7 separate regions of the Homo sapiens genome follow, and regions 1, 2, 3, 4, 5 and 6 are each linked to region 7. Evidence: fine-mapped expression QTL. A gene starts in region 7. Each other region holds a variant in brackets. All regions are shown on one strand. Distances are from middle to middle.

Region 1 (4,000 bases), 39 kb after region 7:
CTCCTGCCTCCCTCTTCCACTTCTAAGGACCTTTGTGATGATACTGGGCCTGCCCAGATTATCCAGGAAAACATCCCCATCTCAGGATTCTCAGCTTAATCCCATCTGCAAGGTCCTTGTGCATGTAAGGTGACATAGTCACAGATTCTGGGATGAGGACGTGGACGTCACTGGGGACACCATCATTCTGCCTACTGCAAGTTTTTAGGTGAAGCACCCCCTTGGGTGAGGTTATATATTTACAGCCGAAACTGCCACTCCTCAGCTACATGCATCTTCTCTCTTTCCTGGACACACAATTCCTTTTCTTGTGGTCAAGCACAACAACGATGCCACTGTTTATCAGAGAACAGAGTTCTGGCCAATGGGGTGTGGGTGTAAGAGATGGGCAGTGCTTGCAGGCTCACACAGACTCACACGACCACCTCAGATGAACGCTTCCCTTTGCCCATCCATAAGTTGAGTGAAGAGTACCCAGGGTAAGGTAGAACCACAGGATGGAAGAAGTCAGGGTCCCTGAATGACACTGGAACAGTCTCCCTGCTGACTCACTTTGTATTTTGATACGAAAGTAAGATATTAAGACATTGACATTTGAAGGTTGGTTGTTACAGAGGTTAGTCTACACTGGCATTATACAACTATAAAAGTGTACTTTAAAAGAATTTGCAGGCCGGGCACAGTGGCTCATGCCTGCAATCCCAGCACTTTGGGAGGCCAAGGCGGGTGGATCATGAGGTCAGGAGATTGAGACCATCCTGGCCAACATGGTGAAACCACATCTCTACTAAAAAAATACAAAAAATTAGCCGGATGTGGTGGCACATGCCTGTAGTCCCAGCTATTCAGGAGTCTGAGGCAGGAGAATCGCTTGAACCTGGGAGGTGGAGATTGCAGTGAGCCAAGATCGTGCCACTGTACTCCAGCCTGGCAACAGAGCAAGACTGTTTCTAAAAAAAAAAAAAAAAAAGAATTTGCATAAACATACTTCATAAAAGTTATATGGTACTAAATTTTGTAAGTAAATATAGCATTTGCTTACTTTCACAATAAGTTGGTCTATGACATAAACTCTATGTGAACAAGAAGTTTCCTTGACCAACAACAAAATGAAATCAGGGATTCTGCTACTCAGCTGTAGTCCGCCCTCTGCACCTGATTTATCTCTGTGTTTTGTATTGACTGCTTACACAGTATTGAAGGAGTTCTGATGAACATACATTAGTAACCGCACATGGTAACAAGCATTTTTTTAACTTGTAAGCTCCAGAAACTCTTCAATAAACAGATTGTTAGAAAAGCTCAATTCTGAGGTCAACACAGAAACTAGTTAACTGCGCAACAGGAGTTAATGTTTGAGAGAGCTTCCACTCAGATTTATTTACTCATTGTTTACTTTCAAAAGGATCAAAGATGATTTACCCAAAAACCTGCAGGAAAAATGAAACCAAACAAGGCAAGCAAGAACAACAAGATATGAGCCCAGTGGTCAAGCACCTGGAGTTAGGGATTATGTGGGCCAAGATGCAAGAGAGAGGGAGAGAAAGAGGTAGGGTCGGGGGTGCTTGGGGAGGGGTGGGCAGAAACATTCCCTGTGTTCTTGGAAATGTCATATATTCTCCAAAATGGTCCTTATAAGCAAATGACCAAAGGGCCTTACAACTAGATGATCATGTGTCTGGCTAGAGTTAAGAGCTGAGATTCCTACAGTTGTTCATCAGAGTCTGGGCCCCCCCCAGCGCTGGTACATACAGACGTGGAAAGAGAGGCTGGGGAGAGCCTGGGACCCCAGAGCAGTCACTTCAAGGCAGGGATCAGCATTGGTACAGGGACTGGGTGGAAGGCGAGTTCTGAGGAGCCCCTGTTCCATCCTGAGGAGCCCCTGTTCCATCCACTGCCAGAAACAGTAGAAGGTTCTGGAAGTCCTGCCAATGGCCAAGCAAGGCAAGTCTGAGAACTGGCCCCACTGTGGAGCCCAGGACTGCAGGAGAAACCACTTCTCCCAGACTGGCCTGGGCAGCTCACACCTGCCGAGTGTCTGCTGCACCACGAAGGAAGCTGGTGGGGAGGAAGGCCACTCCCATTAACCAAGCACCTATTTTGTGCCAAGCAGCACACTATGCCCATTGCACATATTTCACTTTGAACAGCAACACTGTGTGTGTGGTAGGTGCTTTTAACCCCTGATTTAGAGATGGAGAATTGAGCCTCAGCAAGATTAGAGAAGTCAGCCCCAAGAGCACATGGCCATTCATGGCGGAGCTGGGATTCGAGCCC[G/C]CACTGCCCGGAGCCAACGCCCATGTGCTCAGACAGCTGCCAGAGGCTCCAGCTGCTCCCTTCAGGCTGCACACGCCACGAGTGTCAGGTCACCCCCTCTTAACTTGGATCTGACAGAAATAGGCCAGAGTGGGGAGGCACTGTGGCCCTCATGTCACAATTAAAGCTATAAATGTTCTGAAGGTGGGGGGTTTAGAACAACCAACCTTGGCTGGGGGTGAGTGAGATGTCTGAGGGAGCCGCAGAGCCAGGGTACACAGCGTGCACACCAGCGTGGCAGGGGACAATGTGTTCCCATCTTCGGAGGCCCTTTGGTCCTCATATTTCGTAGACTCAATGACACAGACCTTCTGGAACATCAGGAGACTCCTCAGAACACTCTGAACCTCTTATTGTTTACACAACAGCAGCTGCTATGAGATTCCCAGAGCTAATCCTTGTGCAATTACCCATGTTAGAAGTGAGGAGACTGAGGCACAAAGAGATTTGCACCTAAACTGGGATCCAAAAACTGGTGAGGGCTGATAAGTGGGTGGGCTATGGTCCCCAAGAATGTCCATTATAGGTCTGATGCTCTGATGGTGGGTTTCAATTAGTAGCAGCAGTAAACATCTCCAAATAAAATGTTGACTTTACCTCTGTGTTGTGGGCCCTGCCATTTGTGAACCGGATGGGCAGTAGTGGATGGTGATGCTCAGAGTTCTAGATGCCAGGGGTTTGATGGTGGTAGAAGTGGCCATCAGAGCAGGCACCCCACATAATTGCCCAGCCACATCCATAGAATGGGGCTTCTCTCATCATTAAGACAACAGATACGTGTCTTCATAAGGCCCCCAAACAACCAGCCTTTTAAATTTTGTTACTTGTTTTGTGACAGTATATAATCCTAAGTCACCTTTCTAAGTGACACTGACACTTATCTGAATCCCAGCGGCCCAAGCAGGATTCCATGGATAACGAAACCCACTTTGTCCTTTTCTTTAATAAAGTTGTCACCCGAATCCCTGCCCTCTCAACTCTCCACTATGAAATATGTAAGCCGTGATTATTTTTCCAAATGATACTGAAGTGCGTAGACTTTCAATAAGAAATGACTCGGGGTATTTTATTCAGCCAGAAATTGATGTGGATGTTTCTACAAAACTCTCATTTGGGTACTTTCTTATTTAAAATTTTTTCATGAAAATTAAGCAGCATTTTTGCATAATTGAGTGTTCTTGGGCATTTAGTTTTTTATGGCTGAATGTTTTATTTGAAAGTCTACATAAATTCCTTTGTGAAGGGAGGTGGAGCAGCAAGAAGAGGGAAAGAGGAGAGAGGAACGCGGCGCAGGGCCTGGCTACATGGGCCCCAGAGCACGTGTCGGCTGGGCAAGGGAATGGGCAGATGAATGAATGGAACGATTGTCAAGCAGGGGACGTACGTAATCATTGCTCCTCCCTGTCACCTGCAAGATCATCCAGAAATCTCTGATAAACAAACACCTGCCAGTTCAGGGCTCAGGGCCCTCTTCAGAGATTGGAGGCTACCTGGGACCCGGGACAGAGCAGTGGCTGATGGATACCAGATGCGACACCTACCCTTCCCTGCTGGCCGCCTGCTAGTTTATCAAACCCCTCCACATGGTTTCCTCCTGGGAGGAACACCCCTCCCAGGAGGCGGAGCAGGGATCTTCCTGTTGTACACTTGGGTTCTGCACCTGGAGCCAAAAGGAGCACTGTGC
Region 2 (4,000 bases), 120 kb before region 7:
CCCCAAGTCCAAGTTTCCTCATCTAAAAACTGGCATGAAAATATGTTCCCAGCCTTCCTCCAAAGGTGACATGAGGAGCAAATGAGATGTATGTGAAAGTGTTTTGTATGCTGCAAAGGGCTGTATTGATTGTGGTTGCAGTACAGAACCAAGTGTTCAAGCCAGATCATTTTACTCATCTTTTGAGAAAACAAGCATCTTCATTTAATCATCATTTCTAAAGGAAAAGAACTATCATTTACTAAGCACCTTCCACCTGCCAGACATCGTGCTCAGACCTGCCACACGCATTTGATCACCTCATCTTTGCAGCAATACAATGGTGTACATGTTGTTACCCTCATTTTTCAGACAAGCAAAGGAGATTTCTGAGAGGCTAGAACATTTGCCAGACCCCCAGCAGACGTAAATCTGTGTTTGTCTGCTTGACTTCTAACTGCATTCCCAATCTGTAAATCAGCTCTGAATCCTGGACTGAGATTGCGCTGAGGAAAGGAGAGAGAGTAGCTTCAGCCATGACCTGCGCGCACCTGGAGGGGATACTCCAGGGCCCTGTGCTGGCCCAGCCTTGGAAAGCGGCACTCTTGACTCCCCTAAGCCTTCTTCAAACCTCTGCCATGAGAAGTCCTGGAAACCTAGTGGGGAGCTTTGGCTGCTGGGCGTGTGGTTCTGTGAGAGAAGTTGGGGAAGTGAGGTGAGAGGAAGTTCGTAAGTCCCACTAGAAGGTAAGCTGCCTACGCAGGGTCCTCGCTTGTTTCGTTCACTGCTCCATCCCCAGTACTGAGGAGAACTCCACATAAAATAGGCACTCAAGAAACAGTTGTTGAATGAGTAGATGGAAGGAAGAGGCACCTTCGCACGTAATGCCACCCGGCTCTTCGGAAAGTGTGCAGGTGGCTCAGGAAGAGGAGGGTTGGGGAGGGGGACCTGGACCACTCAGACCACACACTGACAAAAATGTCAGTCACATTTTGTGAATGCCACTCTGTCAGGGACCAGTGCTGGAGGAGGAGGAGGACCTGGTTGAGCAGGATCAAACCTGGGGCTACCCATCTGGCTTCTGGGATGAGCTCTCCAGGGACAAGTAACAACTTCTGTTTTATCCCCCAAGGAGTGGGCTCAGAATGGGACAAAAATTGGTGTTCTGCATATGTGTACAGTAATGACCGTAGTGGCCATAAGTACAGGTGTCACCATGTGTGGCAGGTCTAGGAGAGTACTGGTAGGTATTGTGAGTCTGAGGGTGTATGTCTGTGTGTGTGCCCATGCACACAGGCATGATAGACGCCCTGGTTATATGTCCAGGTGTCACCTACATGCATGATGACAAGAGCCCTGGAGCCCCCAGGAACTGTCCCATGCCATGAGGCTTTTAGATCCTCACCAGGACCACAGACAGATCTGCAGAAGCAGACCAAGGGCCTTTTAAGAGGAAAATATACTCCCCAAGCTCTCCTCTTTCCAGGCATGGGCTGCCCAGTTTTCAGAACTAATCAACCCACTGGGTTACCACTCATGGTGGGAATGGAAAAGTTACTCTCTTTAAAAGTAAATGAGATCCTTGATGGAGAAAAAGCCTTTCATTTTGCTTGAAGTTGATACATCTTGCTTGGATTGCATGTTATCAGGAAAATAAGATGGGGGGGG[A/GA]AAGAAGAATTTAACATCGTCAGTGAAAATCAGGGAGGGAGGTTCTTAAGCCTGACTCAGCAGAGAACCAGCAGATCCTCTTCAGATGAAGATGCCACATTGTAAATAAATGTGCACTCACAGCTCAATTCCCATATCAATATATTCCTCTGGAAGACAGAGAGGAAGTTAGGGAGGGGCAGGGAGGAAGGTCAAATACGGATGCACCTGTATGTACAGATATTGTCTGTGTTTGTGGGGAGGGCTATTGTATAGACTCGTGCAAGCATGCCTGCCCTGTATCTCCACTCCAGAAGGGCTGATGAGCAAGGTCATTGAGGGTTGCGTGTTTTGTTGTACTGATATCTTGGTGTAAATGTGAGGGAGCCTTTATGTACAGATGTGTAATTGTGTATGGATTTCAGAGTCTTACGTGCAGACATCCCCTGTGGCTGTGCAGGACCAGACCGAGGTGGACTCACTGTTCTTTGCTAATGGGAAATGTTGAGGTCAAAGAGCATTGCCATTCGGTTCCCCAAATCAAAAAAGCATTCAGATACAACAAGGTATCTGGTAGGATGGGAAGAAGGTACTTTCTACGTGGCCCTGATCACTGTGCTGGCATTGAGTGGTAGACAGAATGCAGAGGTATTTCAGTGATGGCCAAGGCACAGTGTGGTGACCCAGTAGCCTTACGAAACAACCTAACCCACCCACAGGAAGTGCTCCATCGCTCTGAGAGAACAAACAATGCCCATGCCAGGCACTTAACTCAATGGCCAAATATCTCTACCTATCCAAAGATGGGGTAGAGTGCAAGGATTAAATGAGGCTGTGGGAGAGGACAGATCTGTGGGCCTTGACTCCTCTCAAAATGGGCAGCCAAGGGACACACCCTGAAGAAGACTGAACAAGATTCAAAAGGGGCCAGAATTGGGCTGGGCAGAGCCCTCTACCACAAGCATTTTCTAGCAGAGCCAGAGGGAAGTGGAGTGAGGCCCTCAGCCCTTGGGAGGCCTGGCTAACCTTGCTGATTCCTGACTTTTAACCATCCCCAGCTCCCAAGCCAGTGCTGGCCAGGCTGTTTCAATTCTGTCACTCTGTAAATAGAGGTGTGGTGAGTGAAAGGTGGAAACATCCCTCTCCAGTTCCCTCTGAGGGCCAAGTGGCAGAAACGCGGTGAATGGAGAAAGGCAGTAAATGTCTGTCTCGGAGAGCTTCCAGAAACACTGACTGGCTTGCCTGGGGCCAAACAGCCCAAGACAGGGGTCCTTGGGCTGGAGGTAGAACAAGCTGACCGCTGGTACCCAGAAGACAGCCCCATTTACTCAGTGGGAACATGGCGGACAATGCAGCCCTCACACAGAGCCTCTAGGTTGGGCCGGCTCAGAGTGGGAGAGAGGCTGGGTGCAGCTCATCATTTTAACTGCTCTGTTGCCATCTTCCTTGCCCAGCTAAGGCCTTGCTAGCCCATTCCTTCCTAGAGATAGGGAGCCACAGAAGCATGAAGTATCCTGCTCCTGGGGTTGGCAAAACAGCCGCTGCAGCATCCCAGGGAGCAGGGAGTTCAGGCCTCAGTGGAAAAAGTGACCACTGCTCACACAGCCCAGGGAAAGGAGGCTGGGTGGCCCCATCCCACCCTGCTAGGTATGGCTGCCTTGGCCAAGCTTAAATAGACTCTTGGCCACCTAGAGAGACTCAGAAACTTGCAGAGGCTTCCAGCCCACTGTCCTGTTGGTGGAGGGCACCCTGCCATCCTGGAGAGGGCAGGCAAGCTCTGGGCAGGTACTTACAACTGCCCCTACCCCAAGCCACCCCTGCTCCCACCAGTGGCTTCACTCTGGTCCTATTCTCCTCCACCCATCTTCTCTCCTCTGCTCCCACTGACCACCCCAGGAACTCCCCACTCCAGTCCTAGAACTCTGACATTTGCCATCCGCCCCAACACATCCAAATCCCATAGCCTGTCCTCAGCCCCGACCCTGGCTGGCTTCCCTGTCGCCTGGCATGGTCTCCAGGGCCCATCCCGTAGAAGCGCTCTCCTCCGTGGGCTTCCCGACTCCCTCTCTGACTTTCCAACTGCCTGTTCCCCTTCCCATCTTCTTTCCTGGCTGCTCTGCCTCTGCCAGCGCCTCAAACTCCCTTGTTCCCCAAGGTTCGGACTCTTGGTTCTCAGTTTTCTCCCTATCTTCCCAGCATCTATCTTCCTAACTGGACTCCAAGGTCAAGGCTCACATTACTTCTGTATGTCCTATAACTGGATACACAACAAATGCCTTTCAATGAGTTGATTAATTAGTGTGAAGGAAGCATGGGGTAGGGGCAAAGTAATGAAGTACAACGGAGTAGCAGGTGACCTGGCCAAGGCACCTAG
Region 3 (4,000 bases), 110 kb before region 7:
CATCAAATTTGGCATTGAGCTTCCTGGCATCCAAGGCAAAAGGGAAATGTGATATGCCCCAGAGCTCTCCTTATCAGAAAGAAGGAAGCGTAGAAATTCCTCAGGGGAGGCAATTTTTCCCTGGCATTAAATTCTAAAAGATCTGTCTCACGTAGGAATTTCAACAGGGCGCGTTGAGAGTTGTAATGAACAGTGCACTTGATAATGGTCTTGGAGCAAACAACGAGCACATTTCATAGGTCTGGTTCTCATGAGAACTTTCAGTACAATTAAGAGACAAAGGAGCCATCAGAAAGTGTGATTTTATAATAAATTCAGCTAAGCGAGTATGATCCAAATATGCCATGTTTAGTGGTCAAACAAGACCAGAAAAAGAAAATGGGAAACCTCTCACACTTTCCAAAATCAGTGACCCCTTTACTTGATGGGCCGAGGGCTCTCACAGCGTAGCTTTTTTTTTTTTTTTTTTTTTTTTTTTGAGATGGAGTTTCGCTCTTGTCTCCCAGGTTAGAGAGCAATGGTGTGATTTTGGCTCACTGCAACCTCCGCCTCCCAGGTTCAAGCAATTCTCCTGCCTCAGCCTCCCCAGTAGCTTGCTTTTGGTGCTAATTGTTATGCTTCTTTCATGGGGAGTGCAGAGCCCTGAGCTGCGAGGACTGGAATATCCATCCTGGAGGGACACTAGCAATGAAACACAGGATGTGAGGATTGAAGAGAGCTGGCAAGTTTAGTGTATCCCCAGAGTCCAAGCTGCTCACCGTGTGGCTAAAGAAACTAAAAGACCACCTTTCTCAAAGGTGACACAAAAAGTACAGACACCTGGAGTGGGAGGGGACCAGTGTGTAACATGAACACAGGCTTTGGGGCCAGTGAGAGCAACGGGTCAAAGTCCACCTCTGCTGTTTACTAACTAAATCTGGGCCAGTTATTTAACTTTTCAGAGTCTCCACTCTCTCATCTGTAAAAAGGGAATATCAAAACCTACTTCACAGAGCCACATGAGAAGATGGAATGAGTGTACACACGAAATCCCTAGCCCCATGTGGGAAGTGACCGATGAATGGGAATTCCTGTCCCCTGTAATTCATGCTGGCTCCAGATATGGCTTATGATGAAGTATATCCTGGACCCAGCCAAGGCACCCTCAATTACAAAGGTCTTGACAATCACAGAGTGCCGCATTTACAGCCAGAGTGACCACTGCCTCAATTTTCTGAGTAGCCATGATTTCAAATACCCTGTTCTGGAAACTCATATTTCCCCCATTCAAACCAAACCGCCCAAATTGCATCCAGCACTGGTCCAAGAGCTCTTTGTCAGGCCCCAGTGTCCAGGATGGAATTCCTGTTATTTGATTTCCTTTCTGATCCCTGTTTCCGCGGTCACATGATCACTTCTCTCTCCGAAGGCGTGGAGGTGAGATGGGGGAAGAGAGAAGGGAGAGGTCTCAAACACCCCCCCTTCAAAATATGACCCAAGCATCCCTAAGATGGAGTGGGTGACATTACACAGTGAAGACAGTGCCTGGCGTGGACGCCTCATGCAGGAGAGTGGGGACCTAGCAAAGGGAAGACACTAGGCTAGAGCTGGCCTAGGGCTGCTGTGGAGTCTCTTAGTGGCTGGAGGGTCCCAGATGAGTGGGGGGATGGAAGAAGGAGCAAAACCATAGGGAGCAGATGAGGACAAGGACAGGAGGACAGAATCCCAGCCCACACACGTATGGGCCAGCAGAGGCAGGGGCCCAGGGAGGCTCTGGGATGGGACATCCTCCCTGTGGGGAAGAGAAAGATGGGCACAGCTGAGAGCCCAGAGGCACGGCTGCTTGAAGAGAAACTTTACTCTTCCTTCGGTAGCCATGGAAAGAAGCCCAGAGATCAGCTGGAATCAATGGGGAAGCAGGAAAACCTCTTGTCCAGAGGTCAGTCATTCATTCAACAAACATTTACTTGGCACCTTCTGTGTGGCTATAGGAAGATATGGATCCATGTAGGGAGAGGAAAACAGAAAACTTGCCATTCCTCCAGGGAGCAAGAGAACAATGTAAATTTAAGCGGCTCAGGGAAGATGGGTTGGGAACTTGGCTGGACACCTGGACGCTCAGGCTATAGCTCTTGTTCCAATCAGGTGTCCAGCCTGTGGCCTCCAATTTCTTTCCCATCTTGTACCTTGAGGCTCCTCAGCACCAGCTCAGGAGCTGCTCCCAGGGGCCTCTGAAGGAGAAAGAAAGGCCTTGGTGAAGACAAGCATGGGCCTGGAGGGGCTTTGACAACCGCCAGGGAAGCGAGTTGCCATGAGCAAACACCTGGGATGACCTGAGGGTGACCTTAGCATCCCAGGAGGCCACGGTGCTCTGCAAAACACAAAACCCATCAAGCTTTGCCTGCCTGCCTAACCTCTCCTCTGCAAAGCTGCCCGCTACCCCTACACCCCTGCACCCCC[C/A]AGTTTCAGACTAAGGCGGCAACTTCAGGAGGCAACTTCTGTGAGGCAGAGGGAAGAAGGGGACGCCACCACTCCCAGACTGACAGTCAGCAGTGGGACACTGCTGAAGCCCATCGCCCACCCATCTGCTGGCGTGCTCAGCCCACTTCACCAAGCCCGCATTCACAGCCTCCGTCTACAACTCAGGCTCTCAGCAAAGACCTGAGCTGAAGTGGAGAAGGCCCACGGGGTGGCTGGGTTACTAATGCCACCCAGACGGCTGCCAGCACACGCAGGAAAGAAGATAGCTGCATTCTTCTCTGACAAGCAGCAATGAATGGCCACCGTGCTGCCTGGGCTCCAGGCTGACACCCAGACAGCAGGCTGAACTTGGGCAGTGTGATCCTTATCTTGAGGTTGCAGCAGCAGCAGTGACAGTGGCAGCAACTACAGGGGCTCTGGAAGGGTTGTACACCTGTCCGAAGAAGCTTCCAGTCAGGGGCCACTACTCCATGTTTCTTCCTTCCAACCCTGCTCCGTGCTTAAGCATGAAGTCGCAAGGCCACGAAGCAGAGGCCAGGAAGCCAGCAGGACAAAAAAGCCAGTGTGCAAACAAGGCTGAGAAGTTACAGAGGGAATCTACAAACCCACCCTCTGCCGGGCACTGTGCCAGGTGCTCTATATATATCTTCTGTTTGCTCCTTCCAAGAACCCTTTCAGGCAGAAACTATCATTCCTATTTTGTAGATAAGAAGACTGAGGTTCAGGAAGGATACACAGTTTGCCCACAGTCTGGAGGAGGTATGTGGCAGAGTCAAGATGCAGATCGAGTCTTTTTGACTGCATGAATAATGAAATTCCCCCACACTGTGACAAGGCTCCACAGCATGAAATTCACAAGTCAAAGGATGCCTATGTCTCATTAGGACAAGGAGCCCCCATCTGCCTCCAAATGACATGTGACCTCCCAGAGAAGAGGCAAGGCTGGATGAGACTTGGGAAGGAAAAGACTCAGTTGATCCACATTAACACCTGGTAAAGGTCTCACAGCAGCACACGTCCCTCTGCAGAAAATTCTCTGTGCATATTGGCGTGGGCTCCTTTATCCAATACTCATGTAACACCAAGAAAAAGAAGGGTGTAAGCTGGTGGCACCTTCCCCCCTCCTCCCCTCGCTCAGTTTCTGGCAGGACGACATCTGCCTTCACACCTGCTGATGTCACCAGCCCAGGTCGCGAAGTCGGGAAATCGCAGCCAAGAGGTACGTACGTTAATGATGACACCTTTGTCGAGCAGGCTCTGCTTCTTGGCTGTCATTACAAAATAGTGGGTGCAGTCCTTGTAGTAAACAATGTTCTCAAGATCTATGCCTGAAAAGAGAAGCATTCACAAGCTCAGTGTTACTTCCTCGGCACCAACTGTGTGCCAGGAACTGTACTTTGCCTCACTATTGGTCTTGTTATTTATCTGCAGAATATTCATGTTAGACCAGTTTTTAAGGCACACAAGGCTGGCAAAGATAAAACAGAGTGCCAGAATCTACCCAAGTCAAAGCAGCTAGCTTCTATAGTTCTATAGCGGC
Region 4 (4,000 bases), 20 kb after region 7:
GACCCTATGACAACCCAACACTGGTGTCTCTGAGGGGACTTCATGGGCCTGCACGGAGCTCTGAGCCTACCCTGTTTCACAGGCACAAGTGCAGGCACATCAGATGCACACTCTCCTCACCATTTTAAAGATTGCTTCCCCAGGGAGAAACAACTGATTTCAGGCAAACCAATGAGCCGAAAAGGCTGAATGGAGAAATATTTTGCTGGGGGAACTGGTGTTGACTTTTCATTCCAGCCACCAGGCTACTCTGAGTTTTTCAATGTGCAGAAGGCCTTCACAGCTGGTGCCTGAATGCCTGGCGGTAGAAGCTATCTATGTCTCCTTCCACCTCTTTTTGGAAACAAATAATTACCATGTATTACAACAAAGATCACAACAGAGGTCTGTTTAGGGATCTCTGCCTTGCTCCCATCTGTACCTTTTGTCCCAGCACCCAGTAGACACTTACCATATCCTGATGCAGATTAGAGCTCAGCAATGTTTGATGAGTGTCACGTGTCAAGCCCTGGGTTAAAGGATACTTTGTCCTACTTTGTCTGCACCACGGTGGTGAGTAAAATCTCCATGTTGCAGATGAGAAACAAAGGCTCAGGGAAATAAAATGACTCCTCCAATCAGGGCTACTTAGCTAGTCAATGACAGGCTTGTGAGCCAAGATCTACCCACCTGTGATGGTGGAATCTAAGTTCAGTGCCACCTGCTCATTGCTGCCTGCTAAGGAAGGGAGGAGAAAAGGGAGGAAGGAAGGAAAGGAAGAGGAGACAGAGGGGCAGGGACAGATCATAGAAGGAAGAGAGGGAAAGGAGGAAGTTGAGAAAGAGGGGAAGGGAGAGAGGAGGGCGTGAGGGAAACTGGTGGTGGTGGAGGCTCCAAACCTGCCTTCCTCTTCTCTCTCCCGGAATCTGTGTCCTGGGGGAGGTTGTATGAATCTGGAAGCCCATTCCAGACTGATCTTGTATTTCCCTTGCAGTAAGAAGAGGAGGAAGAGGAGGAAGCTTAGGAATCCTCTCTGAAGGGGACATGGTTCTTGGAGGCCTGATTTGTATTGGGGAGAATCCTGAAACCAATCACTGAGGGAGCACTACCCTTTATGATGGGGATGGAAAAGCCACAGCAACCCTATGGCCTCTAGTTTTGGAGAGGGACTCAGCTAAAGACCAAAGGAAGCACCAGAAAGAAGAACTGAAGAGTTTAATTTGGTTAAACATAAATAAAAATAAAAACATCTCTAGAATATAGAAACTATCTCTAGAAGTCCGGGTGTTGTGGCTCACACCTGTAATCCCAGCATTTTGGGAGGCTAAGGCAGGTGGATGACCTGAGCTCAGGAATTTGAGACCAGCCTGGGCAATATGGCAAAACTTCGTCTCTGCCAAAAATACAAAAAATTAGCCGGGTGTGGTGGTATGCACCTGTTGTCACAGCTACTCGAGAGGCTGAAGTGGGAGAACTGCTTGAGCCTGGGAGGCAGAGGTTGTAGTGAGCCAAGATTGCACCACTGCACTCCAACCTGGGTGAAAAAAATAAAAGAAAAACTATCTCTAGGGGTGGAGCTCTGGGGAATGTTTTCTCTGTTCAAATGTTCTACCAAGCAGATGTATTACAGTGGATGTGATTGCCTTTAATTTGCTTGATTTGCTGGACATCGTTCAAAGGTCATCCCCAGGTATCAGTGGATGGATAGGAAGGAGAGTGTGTGCACTGAGGGTGTGGCTGTGGGCCCTGCAGGGGAGGCACCACAGGGAGGGGCTGGCACTCCTATGGGCTCAGACGCTCAGGTGAGTTGCCCATTACATAAGGTGCATTGCTAGGGCATTAGCTCAGCCAGGAAGGAACCACTCTGGACTTGTGACTTCACTTTCCCCCCTCCCTCTCTCCTGTTCCCACCCCCCACCCTGGCTCCTTCTTTTTTCTTTTTTTTTTTAGACGGAGTCTTACTCTGTTGCCTAGGCCGGAGTGCAGTGGCACGATCTCTGCTCACTGCAACCTCTGCCTCCACGGGGTCTCCTTCTGATAACTACTGAAGGAATTCTATGAGGCTATCTCTCCCCCAAGCTCTCTGGGGGA[A/G]TGGGTTTAATTAAAAACCAGTCCAGTTTGCCCTCAGTAGGAAACAGGGCAGACAGGATGTTGGTGCAAAGCAAGCCAAAAACCTAGTCAGTATGGAAGGCATCTGCCTTCTTCCTGTCGTGACCCTCTGGGCTCAGCTCTGAGACCTGCCGGGACAGGAGTAGCGGGGGCCTAGGGCCCTCAGGGGGGTTAACATACTGGCTGCTGACCTGGCAGGGGCTCTCAGGCAGGTGGGCAGGGCTCTGACAGGAGGAGTCTCTGGCTTTTGCCAAAGATACTTGTTTTCAGGTGGGTAACAGCATCTGGCTTCTGAAGGAACTTCCTCTTTGAAGCAGGAAGTGGTTTTGGATTCAGGAATAGGGCGTGGTCTAAAAGGAAAAATGATAGGGGAAGTTGGCAAGACCATAGAATCCCAGCTGAATGGGGTTAAGGGGACTTCTTGCTCACTGGAAAACCTGGGGCAGAAGCTCAGTTACCCAGATTGGGCTGGGGAAAGGCTGGAGCTGAGAACAGAGGTGGAGGCCCAAGGCAGGGAGCCTTCTCAGGAACCTTGGGTCATAAACGCAGATCTTTTTCTTTTTAATTATTTTAAACATTTTTTAGTTTTACTTTAAGTTCCAGGATACATGTGCAGAATGTGCAGGTTTGCTACATAGGTAAACATGTGCCGTGGTGGTTTGCTACACCTATCAACCCATCACCTAGGTATTAAGCCCAGCATGCATTAGCTATTTGACCTGATGCTCTCCTTCCCCCTGCCCTGCCACAGGCCCCAGTGTGTGTTGTTCCCCTCCCTGTGTCCATGTGTTCCCATTGTTTGGCTTCCACTTATGAGTAAGAACATGCGATGATCACAGATCTTAACCCTTTCTCTCCCACTGCCCAGATGGGGTTCCCACTACCAGGCCAGGTCTAATTTCAGCAGCTCCTGGGCCTGGGTGAAGCTAAATAAGGCAGTTGAATATCTCTAGCTCCTGTGGGTAGGCCTGGCTGGGGAGAGCAGAAATTGATACCTTTAGTCTCTCTGTGTGAGTAATAAGGTGAGAATCTCAATTTGAACCTGTGAATAATCTAATTTTTTCCTCCACCGCACCTAGTACTGGCAAAGCACTCGGCTTGCATTGCCTGGATCCACTCTCTAATGAAATTAGACAATTATATTTCCTCATATCCATACTGAAGAATCCTTAGAAAAATGTAAAAGAGGAAACCAAGACGCAGCGAGGTGAAGGGTACAAGCTCATTCATACCAGGGCTTTCCCCTCTTCTCGTGGTCCTTGAGGCAGTGATCACTGGTCAGTCACTGCATTCTTTCCTGCTGACCCCAGAGCTGGCGACAAAGCTCAGAAGGGCCCTGCAGGCCTTTCCCCCAGCAGCTCAGTGTTTGCCATTCCCTGTGTGATGAAGTGGGTATGCAGGGAGGCTGGACAGAAAGCAGTGCTGCAAGGAAGATGGAGACCTGGAAAATAAAAATGTCTGTCTGTGTTACTCATTGCTTCAATAATGCTATGCAACTGTGGCAGATTGTATTTCCCAAAGATGGCCGCAACAATATCTCCCATCCTATCTTCTCTTTTGAAATGTGACCTTGCCATTTCCCTATCAAGATGTGACATCTATGTTTCCAAGGGTCGATGCTGTGATTGTTTTGACCAATAGAATAGAAAGAAAGTGATGCCGTGCCAGTGCTGCCACAACTCTTACCTGGCCTAGCAGCATCCTCTTCCTGCCTCGTGGAACCCAGCACCCCGGTGTGAAAAGCCCTTGCCCATGCAGAGGTCATGTGCAGTCAACAGCCCAGTTGAGTCCAGCATGAGAGCTGGCATCCAGTGCCAGCCACCTGGGTGAGCCATCCCAGGCACCCACTCAAGCTGAACCTTTCGGATACCTGCAGCCCTAGCCGACATCTGACTAATCATCTGAAAGCCCC
Region 5 (4,000 bases), 28 kb before region 7:
TTATGTTTCACCCTGCCAATGGAGATGAAACTGGCAGTCAGTCCCAGTCCTCAAGTCCAGGAAGTTGCAAGAAAAGGTAGAATAAACACAGAAGAGTAGCCAGGACCCACCTGGCCCTGGGTCAAGCCTGGATTGAATGGATGAGCCAGGAGGGACCCAAGATTCCAAAGGGAAGAGAGAAGAACAGCACGTGTGTTCAACAGAAACAGAACAAAACAAAAATTCATTTGAGGGCAATAGGATTGAGCCAGCCAGAATTGCTCACACTCCCCTCCCTACACATTTCAGACAACATTGGAATTCACTGTTCATTGCCTGACCCTCCTCTGTGGACAAACTCTGTATTCTGTTTCTCCAGAGAGGGGACAGTTTCTCAGGCTGTGGCAGACTGGCCAATCAGCTCTTTGCCTGGGTCTTTCCCCAGATACTAAGAATGAGAATTCCTGGAGCAGCTTTCCCTGAGGTCCAGTCAACCCCTTGTCATCCTGCCATTCAGGACTCCCGTGGACTCCTCACCCCACGTGATCCCTCAGCGCCCACCAGGCCAGCTGCCAAATGCCCTGACATGCACGCCGGCTGCCCCTCCGCCGGAGCCTCCGCCCATGCCCCAGCATCTTGGATTGGGCCCTGATGCTCTCCCCTCACCCTCACCTTCATCCTCCCTCCTCCCACAACTAAACTGAGCCTCTTCAACGCCCTGCCAAGGCTCACATGTCCAGGAAAGCTCCCGGAGAGAAGGGAGGGTTTTATTCATCCCTATGTTCCCTCTGACTCATGGCTTTCTGTAAGTTCTTCACCCTCCTGTAAACACAGATATATGGTCCCAAAATGTTCTCTGATTGCTGAATACAGGAGCAGGGCAGAGGAGGAGGGAGGAGGGGTGCCAAAACGCCAGACAGGAAGTCCAGGGCCTGCGTTTCCATTCTCCATTGGACACCAGTGAGCCCTGTCACCTTGAGAAAGAATCTTCAGGCCAGGCCTCAGTCTCCCTGTTTGGCAATGAGGGGTTTACTCTAAACAACCTTTCTAATTATAAGGTTACAGAAACCAGGCTAGCCTGGGACACAGAAAACGTGAGTCCTGGGCACTTATTAGCCTACCACCACCTGTGGCAGGCTATCTGACTCCTCAGACCCCAGCCTCCATGTCTATAAAATAAACAAGGATAATGTGACCACCCCACCCAGGGCACAAAGGTTCCCATAGGACACTGTTTGTGATGAAGCTTTGTGGACCATAAAAGCCCTGATCAAACCTCAGGGATGAGACTCCTTGAGTCCACAAACAGCTGTTGGTCACCTGTGATGTGCCTTGTACTGTGCCTGCCGGGAATTGCTGCCTGGCTCAGACAGGAAGGCGGGAGTCTGGTTCCTTGCCCTTGAGGCTCCCACAGCCGGTAGGTGGGACAAGCAGGTGAACAAACCCTAACTCAGTGGTGTATCTGAGGCAAGAACACAGCGCTAGGGGAGTGCAGAGGAGGTGGTGCTGACTCAGAGGGAACAGCGCGCCCTGGGCACAGCAAGCTGCCCCAGGATGGTGGGAACATCCCACACTTTCCTAAGCCTAGGACCAGCCCCCAGGAGCTACTCCACGGTAAACAAGATCCACCACTGTGACTTACTCACTGGATTCTCAGGCATCACAGTGGTTAAAGTCTTCTCTTTCTGGGATGAGACACACACGGGTTGCCATGTTCCTTTAAAAACAAGAGCCCAACAATTAATGTCAGTGACATCATCGTAGCTTATGCCTCCTTTCTAGTCTCCTCCAAGAGGTCACGCATGCTTGTGCACTCTGCCTTGTGGGACACTTCACCCAGCAAGAGGAAATGGACAGAGAATCTCTCCCTGGCCTCCAACAAGTTTTGCA[CG/G]TGAAGAAAGGAATAGCAAGATGGCTAAACAAATTCTATTGTTGGCTGCAGTCAGGGCACCCTAAGGGCTTATCAGATCTCTACACAAAGACTTTGCTGAGGAGTAGGAGGGATCCGGAAAACAATGCTTTATTCGCTGCTTTAGTAAAAACAGAAAGTGTCAGAATTTTTAAGTGTGAGACACAATGAAAGTAAATCAAGCAGGTGTAAAACTGGATAACAAGTCCCCAGTGTGAAACGGGTCCCATTTTCTAACACTGAGTAAACTAGGGAGTTATGAAAGTGCACCAGCTGATCATGGCTGAGTTTCCTAAACTAATTTTTCTCTTGGCTTCCAGTGACGACCCACATTATTTCATGACATCCTATTGCTTCTGCAGAAAATGCCTCTACACCTGTTTGGAAAACGAAGCCCAGAGTTACAAAATATTTCTAATGATTTACTTCCACATTAAAAAATAAATCAAAATATTTAAGAGGTAACCTCAAAGGGACAAAAACTAACACAGGTGTGAAATTTGACATCTATAAGAGGCAATATTCATACTCCAGGGAGGTATACGCACACTTTGTTCAACAGAGTGGTGCCCCCCACACACACACTCACACACACACACACTCTCTCTCTCTAGCACACAAAGAGCACACATTGTTAGAGTGCTGGGAGATGGGACTCACTGTTCAGAATTCTCAGCCCGTTAATGGGAGACAGCCTATGAAGTGCTGTGTACTGTCATGGGTGGAGACTAGACCTGCTTGATCTCAGTGGCTCCTCACAGACAGCAAACAGAGGCTTACAGAACAGATGGCACTTGCCAAGCCCCTACAGCAAGGCAGGATTGGAGCCCAGGACTGGCTGCCCCTGTGCTCATGGTCTTTCCCACCAAGCTGAGGGAAAGGTGTACTGGACATCAACTCTGATTTAGTCCTGGTGGGCCCACACACCGGGCGAGCCTGGCGAGCTCCAAGGGCGGCCACCTGGGCAGAAGCGGCAGCCCTGCCCGCCCGTCATCATCATTACCAAGCCCACACCCCTCGGGGCTTGTGCCAGCTGACAAACAGGCTGGCCTGCCTGGGCCACATTCTATCAGCCTGTGCTGCAGGCTCGGTGCTGCTGCTTCCAGCCAGAAGTCAAAGCGGCTAGAGGCCTTGACTTGTCTGCCCCCTGCTTCTCAAGGGAAGCTTCTGGGATCTGTGGGTGGGGAGCTGGACATCCTGGTACAGAATTCCATCATTGGTCCAACCAGAGTTTCAGAAGCCAGGGACCCCGCCATGCTCTCTAGATCTCAGGAACAGAAGTCCCTACCCACCCTAGGGCATTACGGAGACCAGCAGCAGGGACACGGGGCTCTTTAAGGTTCAGCTTAGGCTGTCTTCATGGTGGGTTGGAGGCAGGTATGACTGGACCAGGCTACAAGGGCTGACCACTGGTCAGATGCTCACAGAGGCCTGGGCACACTGTGTCCAGCCACTCAAAGGACCAACTCGTACCCTTTGTCTGACCAACAAGCCAAATACACTTGAGCTCCCTGTAACACCAACAAATTAGAAGGTCCTAGAGCCCAATACCTTCTGGCCTTTGAGGGTCAGGGCCTCTGTTCCCTCATCCATAAAATGAGGAGCTTGATACAATTGGTGATTTCCTCACCTAGGACCCCATTCAGCTGCCCCCCTCCAGGTACCCTGACTTTTAGAGACACCGACAAAACTACTTAGTTGTTATAAGAGGGAGGGATTAACCTGTGTACAGGTATTGCCTTGGGTAGTTAACACTGCTACCTCAGCTAATCCTCCCAGCAACCCTGTAAGACAGGTAGTACGGTATCATTACAGAGGGGGAAACTGAGGCATGGCACAGCGAAGTGCTTCACCCAAAGTCTCGATTAGCAGAGACCACAGCAGCTCTGGGACTCCCGATGGAGCTGGCCTGAGTCCACGCCCATGCTCACTCCCTGACACTATATTTTCCTTTGTAATCAACCAGAATGAAGAAATGCTGTCTCTCCTTGGACTTGCCATCAGGCCAGTGCCAAGCAAAGAAGCACGAGGTCTCTGGTCCCTCATGGGCCTGATTTGGGTGATACAGGGAAGGTTTCCTGTGAGATTGAGTGGGACATGACAGGCCCAAGT
Region 6 (4,000 bases), 97 kb before region 7:
CCAACTCTTCCCCAATGTACCCTCTCCCATTCCCATCCCCCCATTCCCACACCAAGAAGAAGAGTCTTCACCTTCCAGGGTGTTCCTGCGGCCATCGGCACCAATGATGACGTCAAACTCAAACTCCGACAGAGAATGGTCTGTAGGGAGAAATTCTGCCCGCCAGCCAATTTCTACCAGGACAGAGAAATGAGATGAGTTGGCAGAGAGAGGTGGGAAGAGAATGATTATACCCCCCGTGTGGTGGCTATGAGAAATGGACAGTGCAGCCAGGTCTGTGTATCACAGAGAGAGCCTCCAGGGGAAAGGCTAGAGCAGTCCAGATTCACTCTCTAATCTGGTGTCCTCTGACCTGAGTGTCAGTTCAATCCAGGATGAAGTAAACCAGCAACACCAACTCCATGCCTGGTTTTGTTGGCCTCCGCTAGGAGTCTATCCTCAATGCTCCATAAACTACTCTCATTTGCATCTTATCATTCTCAACAAAGTCCACCATCTTCTCTTCACATTCTCCCACATTCTTCAGTGCCTCTCATTGCTAAACAGACCCAAAAGGATATGTAGGGTGTAAGGAAACCACTTTTAATTTCTATTGTATGCTCAAAATGTTCTGTTGTACACTACACTGTCTTTTATTTAAAAAAAAAAATCAGGTGAAGCCTGGCTAATTAAGATTTAATGTCCACTAGAGGTCTGGAAAAGGTTAAGAGTACACAGTCTCTGAATGCCAAATAGTGAATGCTGTCCTGCTCCAAAAGCTAACTAAAGCCTCCCCTAAATTCTCAAATAATCTGGGCAGAGGACAGGAGAAATCAGAAATGTACCCTAAGCAGGAAACCACAAGGTCTCTGACACTAAGCTGGTCCCAAACTCAAAGCCCTTCCCAGGCGGTAGATACTTTTAATAATAAGTAAGATGCAGAGGCATCCTGAATAAACTCTCTGACCATGGTGTGTGTAAGGGATAAGAATTTAAACAAACATGCTAAAAGGAAAAAAGAGAAACATTATGATATGCCTATACGGGCAAATATCATAGTTTATAAATGATACCTCAACATGGTTAAGAGTATTATATACCAAATAACATCTTGAACCTTATTTCACAGTTGCTCTAGAAGCTTCACTTTACTGGATTTTAAAATGTGCCATGGGTACAAGTACAACCACATCTATGTGTTAAACACACACACAGCTTGAAGAACACGTGAATGAACCTTACCAAACAACCAAATCTATGTCTTCTGTCCTATTTATTGATTAGATTTCCTTTGCCAAAGTAGCAACCCCTTGGGACAGGGTAACCAAATTACAGGTTTAATGGCTTAATCATAAATCCCCTTGGAGCCAAACAGCAAACCTAAAGTCATAGCAATGGTAAAAAAAAAACAGTAAAATACCCTTCAGTGGCATTATGCCAACCAGCTCCCAGTAAGAATAACTCCTACAGAAACACCCTTTGGAAGCAGCAAGTGGAATTTCTATTTTGTAGTATCTGCTTTCTAGGCAGAAAAAGAAAATTATACTGTACTTTGATTTTCTTGATCTTCAGGAGGCTCTAGAACCTTCACGAACTCCACATTCACATGGATTTCAACTCCCAGCATCAGGGCCACCTTGAATAGGATGAGCTGTAGTTGGCGAATACCTGTCAGGCAGGAAGGAGAGAGGAACTGTCACAGCAATACCTGAACACCACCTATATGCAGAATGCTACATAATCACTGCCGCTCAGTGACCTTTGAGCACAGCAGTATACCAACAATGATCATTACTGAGCGGGATTATGCACCAAGAGCTCTGTGTTTTCTCATCTAACTCTTACAGTGGCCCTTTGGAATCGTTATTATTCTCATTCTGTAGATGAGAAATTGAGGCTTAACAAAGTTAAATGACTTGCTCAAGGCGACACAGAGCAAAGCTAGAACATGGACCCACATCTGTCTGATTTCTAGACCCTGTTCTAGCTGCTAGATGATGCTGTAACAAGAGAAGCTCTGTCTTTCCAGCCTCCTTCCCCAGCTGGGCTCTGGGTTTGATGAAATGAAGAGTAAAGGGCCTCAGTGAAGACCGTGATCAGTGACTCATTACATGGGGCCTA[C/T]GCCTCAGCTCTTAGACATCCAGTGGTGAGGAGTGGGTAGGAAATTTTCCCCACAAAGCTGGGTCATGGTTCCCCATCTCTTACCCACACTTCAAAACTCCCCTAGTGAGTGGAATCTCATTTCTGTTTTGTCTCCTGCCATTCAGCACAAATGCGTATGCCTCCAAATACTTTTCTGTAGAGTGAGAAGTTTTAAACTTTCTGTGGGCCCTTCTGTATTTGGTGGGTTTGACTTACTTAGTATTTATTGAGCATCTATACTATGTCAGGTGCCATGCTAGGCACAGGAGATACAGAACACACCCTCTAATGGAGGGAACAGAGGTAAATAGAATGGGGCAAGACATGGTGGTTGGGGGAGGGTGATGGTGGTAGAACAGGGCCTTAGTGGGGGTCCTGGAAGCCAAGAGAGGAGGGACCAAGAATATCAAATCCCACAGAGAGAGGAAGGGCTGTGAAGGTGACAAGAGCCCAATAAACTTGGGGGTTTGGGAGCTTTTGGAGACACTGCTGAAAATCTCTTTAGCACACAGGTGGGGAAGACAGCAGACTGCGACGTTAGAAGGTTTGAATGGAAAGCATGGACCAAGTCTACGCCCTTCTTTCTAGAATAAATACCTTATGGCAAGGAAAAGTGGCAGGGCAGCAACAGGGCTGGAGGGCTGGCATGAGGGGAGGAGCAGGAAGACTCAGTGATGGGGCAGGTAGAAAGGAAGGAAGGAAGCCAGAGGGATTGGAATTGGAAAGGAGGCATAAGCTGTGATCTGGCATGAGACACGAGGAAGGAATGGGTGCTGGGGCAGCAGGGGAGAAAAGCGGGCCTAGAACAGGAACACAGGAGGGAGGCCATCTGCTAGGAATGAGGTCACCGTGCTGGAGGTTTGGAATGGCCACAGTGGGAACTGGAGGAGGAAGTTAACACAGACATGGAGAACTGCTGAGCAGTGCTGAGTATGATGGTGCAGCTGAGGCTAGAGATGTGGCTGGGGTGATCCAAAGCCAATCAGCTTAAAGAGCCCAATCCACCTCCTGCCATGAACCACCCTGCCAGGGGAGACCTGGCCTTTCCTTATAGTCCTGAGGTTCCTACTCAGTACGGTTCCAGCACACAGTAGGTGCTCAATAAATTCTCCTTGCCTCCTTTCTCACAAGTACTGGAGCTACCCTTGACAATGATCATTCTGCCTGTCTCAATGTTATTTCTAGAGTCCCACCGGCATTACGGCACGCTGCAGGATTTCCAAGGACTAGGGGTTCAATGAAAGCCCCATCAATGAGGGCAGAGAAGGGCTCCTGGCCAGGAAGCCAGCCCAACCAGCCCAGGGCCCCACAAGGCATCCTGGTACCCAGTTCTGCCCCCCAAGAGAACTTGATGAGAAAGTGGTGCTCAATACAGTGGTTCTAAATTGGTAACCGACATACATTCTTCCATAGGCGGGAGAGCACATCTTGAAAGCTGACACTGCAGCTTTCTGAGTAAATCCAAATTTCCACTGGACTCCTGGAATTTTCTCATCTCAAAGTGTGAATAAACTCTGGGGGCACAGCTGGTAAATTCTCCTGTGTCTGAATAAATTATACCCTATGTGACTGATAATTCTCTCCAGTTGTTCCCGCCCAAGCCTCATTCCTTTTTCCCATCAATTCTTGTCCTCATAAGAACATGGCTCTCAGGGCCCTCCTCCCACCTACCCCTACAGAGAAAGCAGCTCTGGATTCTGAAGTCTGGGGACGATGGCTGCTTCTTGCTCACTGTACAGCATGGGATGCAATGTGTTTTCCTGGGCACTTACTATGTGCTAGGCATAGTGCAAAGCACATTACAAACTTGACCTCATTTAATCTTCTCAGCAATTCTAGGAGACAGAAATTAATCACACTTTACAGGAGATAAAACTGA
Region 7 (4,000 bases):
TATCCACTACTCTTGACTAGGGGGAGGATAAGGGGTTTGCAGGTTGAACAACTTGGCTAACCTGGGTCACTTCAACTGTTTTGCCAAAGAAGCATCCCCTGAAATCCTGGTGGAGAGCATCTTTTCAGAGGCTGGAAGGCTCTAGTCAGCACGCTGTGGGGCCATGGTCCTGCACACAGCACACCACTTCCCACAGCCATGAAACAAGAGCACTGGACTCACACTGACAGGGCCAGGACCTGGCTCAGACACTTGTTGTGTGACCTTGGGCACCTACCATACCTGAGCCTCTTTCCCCATCTCTAAAATGGGGAGGGCAAAACTCTCAGCGTTTTTGGAATAACCATGAAATTGGCTGCAAAAGTGCCACAAGACAGGACCTGTTGCCCAGTAGGCACTTAATAAGTCCGTCTTCTCTCTGCATGAAGAAAGTGAGTTCTTACGGTATTAGAGTCTCCAGGGCATTGCACAGGACTACCCTGGAGACCGGAGGCCCACTTGTTGGGTCGACTGCCACTGGGGAGGGGGAGCAGGACAGAGTAAGTGCAGGTGTCAGGGAACCTGGCACAAACACTGGAGGGCCAATTCGCCTCTGGCTTTTCTCCCGTGGGACCAGCCCACAAGGGGCCTGGCTGGTGACTTCATCCTTCACCAAAATCATTGTAGACTGTAGTTAACAGGCGACAATCACAGCAAGAGAGCCGGCACACTGCTGTAGGCCTGGCGGGGCCCTACAGGCTTCCAAATAAAAGCTCTTTCCGCTTTAAGAACCCAGGCCTCAGAATAAACAATGTGGAAGGAGGCACACTACTCTGGTTTCCACATCCCCTCATCCCCATCCAGTAAAGGCCGTTCCCAGCTCTGCCAGTGAGGCTGGCGGTGAATACAATTTACCCCACCTGCCCCGTCTGGCCCGGCAGCGGCTTAGACGCTGTGGGCAAGATCCCACCTCTCCCCGGGGCCAGCCAGGCACCTACAGGGTGGGTGCCGCGGACACCCTGCGGGGGTGCTCCTGGGCCTGGAGCGAGAGCGGGCTACTGGGGATGCGGGAGACGCGATGCAGAGCGGACAGTGCCGCGGCCCCTCGGACCACTGCCACGACCCCATCCCGACTGGGCTCCAGCCCGCGGCCAGCCAGGCCACTGACATTTGGCCCAACTTAACTTCCTGTTACTAAAGAGGGAGGGGACAGGGGAGGGGGAAAAGGGCGCCCAGTGAAGAGCTGGAACGGGGCGTGCAAGGCTCGGAGCCCCAATCCTGGGAAGTTTGGGGATGGTCTTCTGCCAGGTGACAGGCAGCACTGCAGGCGCGTCACTCCCACCCCGTTTTGGCGCTTGCGATTTTCTAGGCTTGGAACTGCAGGGTTTGGGTGTTGCGGAGCGGAGTAAGAGGTAGTTCGGCGTGCCGGTGGGAGGCTTTTATTGCGTTCTAATTGGTTCAGAGGCCGGCCAGGGCCGCCCCGGGCTTCGTCGCAGCGCCACCTGCTCACTGTGCGCCCCGCCGGGTGGGTTTGAGGCGGGGGATGCTGCGGCCGCACCTGACCCTCCCGGGCGTTGGACACGGCGCAGAGTCCAGCCGAGGCTGGCACGGTCCCCACCCGCGCCCGCCCGCCCTCCCCACCCTGAGGCCAGCGCCGCCCCCGCCTTACCGAAAGTCGCGCGGGCTGCCCGGCCCCGGGTCAGGCCTGCCTCGGCCCTGGCCGCGGGCGCAGCGATCGGGCCCCGCGGGCCACTGACAGAGCTGGGAGCGAGCGAGGCGGCCCGGCGCAGGCTTAGCCAGCCGAGCGCCTGCGGTTCTGCGCCGCGCGGTGGACCGGGCTGGGGAACGCCCCCGACAGCGGCGCGGCCAATGACAGGACAGCACGGAGCCCGCCCCGCCCCCGTGGGGCCGGCTGTCACCGCCGCTGCCGCCGGCGCACGTGGGCTGTAGCCCGGCCCAGAACGCAGGGAGTGGCCGGGCGCTCCCACCCTGACCCGCACAGGGCGGAGACCAGGGGAGGGCTGCTGGGAGTGGGGCGTGGTGGCGCTGCGAGATGAAACCCCCGGTGTTGGTAAGCGGGTATCAAGGGAGCGGCGAGGGCCTGGGCCTCACGCTTCTTGGTCTAGGCGGCTGGAAAGCAAGACACGGCATCCCCTTTTGGACATGGGGGAGCAGCATGGCACTTCTAGTACCGACTGTGTACGTCCTGTGGACCTCCCTCTTTGCTCGGCTCCTTGACCACCCTGAGCTTCCGCAAACCTCCTTGCTAGCTAATAGGATCTTCCCCTCACCTGGCCTTGCTTGGCTAAAGCTAGTGGGAAGGGGGCGGTGGTGCAGACTACCTGTGTTACCTTGGTCAGATCACCTAAACACCCTCTACCTTTGGCTGTCATATCCCTATCTTAATCTCTGCTCTGCCCACCTTCCCGGGTTACCCTTACCCCCCACAGCTCCAGAGAGCAACATTCACAGACAACACAGTGTGAATGGAGTGGGGCCTAGTGAGCAATCAGAAGCACTCTGTAGACTATAACTACTGTAAAACACCTTGTGTTTAAACGGCTCTTGTAGCAGTTATCATGAAATGGGGATCTCCATGGGCAGGAACCATGTCTGACTCACCTCTGGAACCCAGGGCCCATCACAGGGCTTGGCCCGGTGTAAGCATCAATAAGTGTTCTTGGAACTGAGCTACCTAGGCAGAGGAAAACAGGCAGGCTTGAGCAGTGAGAAACAGTATTGTGGCTCCAGGCTGCTGGAATTTCCCCAGCACAAGACCACCTCCAGGAGACACCATGTTCCCTTGCCAGACAAGTGCAAACAGAACAGTTTGCCTCCCCAAACCTGCAGATTATTATTATTTTTTCTCTACTCTACTTCTTGCCATGTGATCCTACTCTCAGCCCTTTGGTGTTTACCAGGTATTGTCCTACCTGGCAGCTCTCTTAGCTCTCTCTTCAGAATTCAATCAACTTCCTGTAGATGAACTTTCCAGCAAAAGCTGTTCCTACCCAGTTTGCAAGGCCCAGTCAGCTTGTACTCTCAGAGGGCCAGCACTCCACTCTGATGGAAATCTGCCTGTGATGCCAGCCTGGGGAGTGCCCTTCACACGTGATCTCATCTAAGCCTGGCTTGACAGGTATGTATTGTATCATCATCCCATTTCACAGATGTGGAAACTGAGACCAGTGAGGTAAAGCAACTGGTCAACATCACATGGTTAGTAAGTATCAGAGTCCGGATTTGAGCCAGATCTGGTTCCAGAATCTACATGCCTAAACACTATGTGCTGGGGCCTCTACAGCACTGCCCATGCCTCTAGGGTACTTGACAGGTCAAGTCTAACCCTGAAAGAGCTGCTCTAGGCCTGACCCACTCCCAGTCCATCCAAACAGTCTGTCAAGCTCAGGCCAGGGCACTGTAAGGGAGAGGAGACTCCACTGGCCTGGCCCTACCTTATTTAGAAGAGTGATACAGGAAACCCAAGGCAGTGAGGAGCTTCAGGAAGCAGTGTTACATCTGTCCCCACCTTAACTACACTGGACATAAAGCCTCTTGCTATTGGCCTGGACCTGAGACACCCATGTGGTGGATAGAGATGGAGACAGAGTCATTCATTCATTTAACAAACCCTACTCCGAACCAAATGTGGTTCCTGCACTCATGTAACTTATAATGCAACAGATGAATAATCAGAAGTACACAATGCTGTCCAGACATGGTGGCTCAGGCCTGTAATCCCAGCACTTGGGAGGCTGAGGTGGGCAGATCACCTGAGGTCAGGAGTTCAAGACCAGCCTGGCCAATATGGTGAAACCCCGTTTCTACTAAAAAACACAAAAAATCATCTGGGCATCATGGCACATGCCTATAATCCCAGCTACTCAGGGGGCTGAGGCAGGAGAATTGCTCGTACAGCGAGACTCCATCTCAAAAAAAAAAAAAAAAGGAAGAAGAGGAAGAAGAAGAAGAAGACCACAGTGCTTTGGGAGCTGTATTCTTTATTACTCTTTTTTTTTTT

Which allele goes with the higher level. Alleles are on the strand shown, and positions count from the first base shown. SD is a standard deviation of normalised expression in the study named. Not every link is listed here.
For the expression in aorta of the gene that starts at base 1,785 in region 7, A is the high allele of the variant in region 2 and GA is the other (small effect, 0.22 SD a copy in GTEx).

The links. PIP is the estimated chance that this variant, and not a neighbour inherited with it, causes the effect. A credible set is the group of variants that fine-mapping cannot tell apart.
Region 1: its variant is the best candidate, but not a certain one, in a credible set for the expression of MICAL2 in skeletal muscle (GTEx, PIP 0.88).
Region 2: its variant is the best candidate, but not a certain one, in a credible set for the expression of MICAL2 in aorta (GTEx, PIP 0.86).
Region 3: its variant is the best candidate, but not a certain one, in a credible set for the expression of MICAL2 in whole blood (TOPMed, PIP 0.69).
Region 4: its variant is the best candidate, but not a certain one, in a credible set for the expression of MICAL2 in fibroblasts (GTEx, PIP 0.88).
Region 5: its variant is the best candidate, but not a certain one, in a credible set for the expression of MICAL2 in whole blood (INTERVAL, PIP 0.62).
Region 6: its variant is the best candidate, but not a certain one, in a credible set for the expression of MICAL2 in fibroblasts (GTEx, PIP 0.86).

What each region holds. Positions count from the first base shown.
Region 1 is chr11:12,069,141-12,073,140 of GRCh38, reverse strand. No RefSeq gene overlaps it. Among named protein-coding and RNA genes, the nearest start is that of LINC02989, 16 kb to the left of the region's middle. The variant G/C (reference allele first, on the strand shown) is at 2,278.
Region 2 is chr11:12,228,362-12,232,361 of GRCh38, reverse strand. All of the region lies in intron 15 of MICAL2 (microtubule associated monooxygenase, calponin and LIM domain containing 2), which reads right to left. Among named protein-coding and RNA genes, the nearest start is that of MIR6124, 67 kb to the right of the region's middle. The variant A/GA (reference allele first, on the strand shown) is at 1,648.
Region 3 is chr11:12,216,007-12,220,006 of GRCh38, reverse strand. It overlaps MICAL2 (microtubule associated monooxygenase, calponin and LIM domain containing 2), which reads right to left. Exons shown (of 28, transcript NM_001282663.2): 8 at 3,688-3,788. The region is part of intron 2 of LOC124902634 (a long non-coding RNA gene); the gene reads left to right. Among named protein-coding and RNA genes, the nearest start is that of MIR6124, 54 kb to the right of the region's middle. RefSeq lists enhancers at 2,135-2,635, 2,636-3,136. The variant C/A (reference allele first, on the strand shown) is at 2,440.
Region 4 is chr11:12,088,651-12,092,650 of GRCh38, reverse strand. LINC02989 (long intergenic non-protein coding RNA 2989) reads right to left here. Exons shown (of 2, transcript NR_186297.1): 2 at 3,210-3,529. Among named protein-coding and RNA genes, the nearest start is that of LINC02989, 3.8 kb to the right of the region's middle. RefSeq lists an enhancer at 1-242 and a silencer at 135-429. The variant A/G (reference allele first, on the strand shown) is at 2,071.
Region 5 is chr11:12,136,086-12,140,085 of GRCh38, reverse strand. MICAL2 (microtubule associated monooxygenase, calponin and LIM domain containing 2) reads right to left here. Exons shown (of 28, transcript NM_001282663.2): 2 at 1,626-1,696. Among named protein-coding and RNA genes, the nearest start is that of MIR6124, 26 kb to the left of the region's middle. RefSeq lists enhancers at 87-628, 629-1,172, 2,903-3,403. The variant CG/G (reference allele first, on the strand shown) is at 1,870.
Region 6 is chr11:12,205,670-12,209,669 of GRCh38, reverse strand. It overlaps MICAL2 (microtubule associated monooxygenase, calponin and LIM domain containing 2), which reads right to left. Exons shown (of 28, transcript NM_001282663.2): 5 at 1,531-1,647; 6 at 72-173. Among named protein-coding and RNA genes, the nearest start is that of MIR6124, 44 kb to the right of the region's middle. The variant C/T (reference allele first, on the strand shown) is at 2,101.
Region 7 is chr11:12,108,375-12,112,374 of GRCh38, reverse strand. MICAL2 (microtubule associated monooxygenase, calponin and LIM domain containing 2) reads right to left here and starts at 1,785. Exons shown (of 28, transcript NM_001282663.2): 1 at 1,649-1,785. RefSeq lists an enhancer at 1,176-1,879 and a silencer at 1,422-2,091.